Regions from separate parts of the Homo sapiens genome. Here region 1 is linked to region 2. The links come from fine-mapping of genetic effects on gene expression. Tissue or cell type: lymphoblastoid cells. Region 2 holds a variant in brackets; the other region holds the start of a gene. All regions are shown on one strand. Distances are between the middles of the regions.

Evidence for each region. PIP is the estimated chance that this variant, and not a neighbour inherited with it, causes the effect.
Region 1: it holds the start of ZNF154, and the variant in region 2 is fine-mapped to the expression of ZNF154 in lymphoblastoid cells (TwinsUK, PIP 0.95).

What each region holds. Positions count from the first base shown.
Region 1 is chr19:57,707,981-57,710,683 of GRCh38, reverse strand. It overlaps ZNF154 (zinc finger protein 154), which reads left to right and starts at 1,480. Exons shown (of 3, transcript NM_001085384.3): 1 at 1,480-1,745. The coding sequence starts at 1,713. RefSeq lists enhancers at 1,300-1,359, 1,380-1,509, 1,253-1,892.
Region 2 is chr19:57,862,746-57,865,360 of GRCh38, reverse strand. ZNF587 (zinc finger protein 587) reads right to left here. Exons shown (of 3, transcript NM_032828.4): 3 at 244-2,615. Among named protein-coding and RNA genes, the nearest start is that of ZNF587, 14 kb to the right of the region's middle. The variant G/TG (reference allele first, on the strand shown) is at 1,320.

The DNA.
Region 1 (2,703 bases), 150 kb after region 2:
AGACTGCGTCATTGCACTCCAGCCTGGGCAATAAGAGTGAAACTCCATCTCAAAAAAAAAGAAAAAAAAAAAAGAAGAGATTTCTCACCTATATACCCTGAGTGTCTCTGCAGCCAGCAAAGCAGATGAAGGCCTGCTGGGTTGGAGCCCTAGGCCCTCCAATGCTGAAATGCCCTGTGAAGTCTCCATCCATCCAGGCACTCTAGTAACCTGCTTCTTCTGCCTGGAATTTATTCTAAAAATACCCACATGGCTCATTTCTCACTTCCTTCAAGTGCATTTCACCGGCTTTCTGATTAAGAAGTCCCACCTCTCCCCTTTGTCTCTTATCAAAGTAGCATTTCTTTCATTGTTTTTTGAGATTGATGTTAGACTTCTAGAAGGAATATATCTCAGATATCAAGTAAGAATTATGAAATGGATAAAAGCGTTGCTCAGTGAATTGGACACAGTTATTGACTGGACACAGTAATTGGACACAATAATTGACTATGCAGGCAAAAGATGTTTTCTGTTGGAATCAGACAGAATTCTACCTTTGTACTACTGTTTCAAGGTGATCTAACATTTCTCTTCTATCTTCTAGAAGCACTATCATGCCACTATCTGAAGTAGTTTTTCACCTGTCCCTGACCAAAAGTGCACAGACTGACTTCAATGCTTCGGAGTGCATACATTTGAAATGTAATATGATAGAGGCTGGGTACGGTGGCTTACGCCTGTAATCCCAGCACTTTGAGAGGCCGAGGCGGGCAGATCACCTGGGGCCAGGAATTTGGGACCACCATAGTGAAACCCTGTCTCTACTGAAAATACAAAAAATTAGCCTGGCGTGGTGGCGCGCGCCTATAGTCCCAGCTACTTGGAAGGTTGAGGCACGAGAATCGATTAACCCGGGAGGCGGAGGTTGCAGTGATCCCAGATGGCGCCGCTGCACTCCAGCCTGGGGGACAGAGGGAAACTTTGTCTTAAAAAAAAAAAAAAAGGAATAAACTTATATGGTAATGTTTATTAGCTTCCCTACTAGTGGATATATTTCGTGTCTGAATGGCTCTATGGAATGATGTACATATTTGGATTGGCAGCCTTAGGGAGCGTCTGATAATAATTTTAGCCTCTGGGAGCCTGCTGAACTTTATGAAGTTTGAAATAATATTCCCCAAACACTTGGGTGATCAGTTGCAGATGGCACCTCTAATATGCTGTCTGATTACGACCCATTTAAGAAAGGGCGAAGTCCCTCCACTGCCCTAGGACTTGGATAAGCCATTTCTCATCGCCCAGCGCCCTGGAGCTTCGCTTTTACTCCAAGAGGTTGGTGCAAAGGGTCCCCGGCACCCACCTCGGGATCTATGAAAACTACATTACCTAGAATGCTCTGCGTTGAACGCCACGCTACTAAGCCAGTAAGAGCTCAGAAAACCGACTTTCCTTGAGAGTCACAAAAAGAAAGGACGGGACTTTTGGGGGGGCCTCTTCGTGGCGGCCATTTTAGCTTCTCTGAGGTGTGTTCACCGGATCAGAGATAGCAGAGCGCCGAGTTGGGGCCACGAAGGCGTGAGGGGAGTCGTCGTCCCTCCTGCACGAAAGCGTCTAAGCCTTGGCGACGCCGCCCTGGGGGACCCACGTCAGGCCTGGGATAGGGACCGCTGTCCCCGGGTCCCTACCAATGTCGCCCGTCGCTCCCGGCCCAGCTCTACCCGCAGAGTCTGATGGCAGCGGCCACTCTGAGGACGCCAACTCAGGTGAGTGCGGCGTCTTCCCGTCCTCACACACCTTCCCCCACCCACGTTCTAAAGCCATCAGTGAGGGGCGCCTGCTCGAGTCCCCGCTGCCCAGGGTCGGGGACACTGAGGCGTTCGTGGGTGGGGCCCTTTTTTTGACACTGCGTGTGACGAGGTGTGGGAGAGCGTGACAGGCGGAGGAACCGGCGCGTGCAAAGGTTGAGGCGCGACTGAGCCAGGAGAATTCGGAAAGCTGTTTTCTGCAGGGAACGAAGAATATGAGGCGGAGTTACTCCTAGGGTTGTACTGTCATTGTGAGGATGCTAGAAGCCACGGAGAGTTCTGAACAAAGGAGGGACGCCATTTATGTTAGTTTTTTTTTCTTTGAGACGGAGTTTCGCTCTTATCGCCCAGGCTGGAGTGCAATGACGCGATCTCGGGTCACTGCAACCTCCGACTCCCGGGTTCAAGCGATTCTCCTGCCTCAGCCTCCCCAGCAGCTGGGATTACAAGCCTGCAGCTGGGATTACAACGTCCGGCTAATTTTTTGTATTTTTAGTAGAGACGGGATTTCACCATTTTGGCCAGACTGGTCTGGAACTCCTGACAAGTGATCCTCCTGCCTCGGCCTCCCAAAGTGCTGGGATTACAGGCGTGAGCCACCGTGCCCGCCCTATGTTAGGGTTTAAAAACTTTTCCAAAGACTGTTCACAGGAAGAGCAGCGATGGGGCGATGAGGACATTGAGATAGTGGGAGGCTACATCTTTTTTTCATTGCCCTACAGTTGGCAAGAGGTGACAGCACTGAGACCAGAAAGTAAAACAGCCAGCCTGAGTTCAGGGCCAGGCAGGGCTACAGGGAGGCTTGAGCTCATCTAGCCTCACCAGGGATGCATTCCTCTTTCCCTGGTTCTCCCAGTTGTAGAAGGGCGTATGGAACTCACATAGGGAAGTGGAGAGTGTTCGGTCCCTCAGTAGC
Region 2 (2,615 bases):
AATTCAACACTTAGGGAAAGTAGAGGTTAGCAAGAGGAAGTTACTTCTCTTAGAGTATGTGATTCAAAGGAAAAAATGTGCCACATCAAATATACATGGACTGGCTAAACATTTCTAGGTACATGTAGATTTATAAGCCACTGTAAGATTCAACACAATGAGGAAATTACTGGTGTAATAAAAATAAACATTAGATTGATGAAACACAGTAAAATAATTTCAAACAGGAAAGAGGTATGAATCTTTTGTACAAAAAAAGTTTGACATATATTTAATTCACATACAAGCAGGAAGATTAACTTCATAAGAGAATTAACAAAAGTTGTATTAATTCAAGACAAGAGACTGCAGAGACTAAAATTGCTTAGTACTGAAACTTTTGCTTATATAAACTGTAGTTTATGGAGAAAATAAAGAATTTTTTTGTTTTTTTTGAGGCAGGATCTCACTCTATTCCCCAGGCTAGAGTGCGATGGCACCATCTCGGCTGATTGCAACCTCCATTTTCCAGGAAGGCTCTTTAATTCCCCCTGATTACAAAGGTTTTGTGTGAACATAATTTGGTGTAATAAAAAAAAATTTACACCACAAGAGACAAACATACTCTTCAGTGTGTGTGGTCATAATTTGTTTGAACGAGCCCTTTTAAACTTCTAGATATCATTGAAACTCCTATGTTGATTAAAAATCATCAAAGATCTTTCCAGTGAGAAGGATGAAGATATTACTGAGAATGAAGTATCACTATTTCATGTATGTGCCTGTATGTGCTTATATAACATGCTGTAATACAAGGTGACATTTAGGGGCTGAGACTGTTAACATCTGACTGTACCTTGCTATTTGTAACTTACAATCTTATTCACATTTCTCAAGTGCCATGCCTTTAGGTGCCTATACATCATGCTATCATAGGATTTCTAGGGATAAGCCGAGTGCGGTGGCAGATGCCTGTAATCCCAGCACTTTAGGAGGCCGAGGGGGGTGGATCATGAGGTCAGGAGTTTGAGACCAGCCTGGCTAACGTAGTGAAAGCCCATCTCTACTAAAAATACAAAAATTAGCTGGGCGTGGTGGAGGGAACCTATAGGCCCAGCTACTCGGGAGGCTGAGGCAAGAGAATCACTTGAACCTGGGAGGCGGAGGTTGCAGTGAGCCGAGACCATGCCATTGCACTTCAGCCTGGGTGACAGAGTGAGACTCTGTCTCAAAAAAAAAAAAAAAAAAAAAAATTTAGGGATAATATCTAAGCCCATATAACATGCTGTTATAAAGTTATAAAGTATAACATTTATGGATTGAGTTTTTTTTTTTTTTTT[G/TG]AGATGATGTGTCTCTCTGTCACCAGGTTGGAGTGCACTGGTGTGATATTGGCTCAGTGCACCTTCCACCTCCCAGGTTCAACCGATTTTCTGGCCTCAGCCTCCCGAGTAGCTGGGACTACAGGCACCCGCCACCATGCCCGACTAATTTTTGTATTTTTAGTAGAGACAGGAATTCACAATATTGGCCAGGGTGGTCTTGAACTCCTGACCTTGTGATCCGCCCACCTCAGCCTCCCAAAGTGGTGGGATTACAGGCCTCAGCCACCACACCTGGCCAAGATTCTTCATATAGCTGATTATCTTGCCATTTCTAACTTACAATCTTTTATCCACATTTCTTAACTTTCTTTTGTTACACTAAACGGGACAGGAAGTCTTAACTCTTGTATCCACCAAGCATGTTAGGAAAATAACAGAGATTCCATTAGCAAATTAAGCTCCCCAAAAAACACAAATACATATCTAAAAAATGTTGCAAAGACAAGAAGTGGCCAGGGCGTGTTGGCTCACGCCTATAATCCCAGCACTTTGGGAGGCTAAGGCGGGCGGATCACGAGGTCTGGAGATCGAGACCATCCTGGCAAATACAGTAAAACCCCGTCTCTACTAAAGAAAAGAATACAGGCCAGGTGCAGTGGCTCACGCCTGTAATTCCAGCACTTTGGGAGGCCGAGGTGGGTGGATCACGAGGTCAGGAGTTTGAGACCAGCCTGACCAACATGGTGAAACCTGGTCTCTGCTAAAAATACAAAAATTAGCTGGGTGTGGTGGCACGCACCTGTAATCCCAGCTAAAGAGGTGGCTGAGGCAAGGAGAAGTGCTTGAATCCAGGAGGTAGAAGTTGCAGTGAGCTGAGATTGCGACACGGCACTCCAACCTGGGCAAGAGAGCAAGACTCTGTCTCAAGAAACAAAACAAAAAAATTAAGCTGACGTGGTGGGCGCTTGTGGTCCCAGCTACTCAGGAGGCTGAGGCAAGAGAATGGCGTGAACCCGGGAGGTGGAGTTGCAGTGAGCCGAGATCGTGCCACTGCACTCCAGCCTGGGTGAAAGAGTGAGACTTCTCAAAAAAAACACAAAGTGTCCACTCAATAACTTTGCTTGAAACTGTCTTCATGTTCTTCACTTCACAAATATAAAGCTGTTACAGTGGACTTTGTGAGGTTCCATGTTTTTGGTCAGCCATAAGAGGAAGAATAATTCAGAGTGAGAGGAAACAGATTCTAGGCAGCCCTCAGGGAAGTTGAGGAGGTGGCACCCTGCCTCCGGGTCCCTCAGAATGTCCCATCTCCCT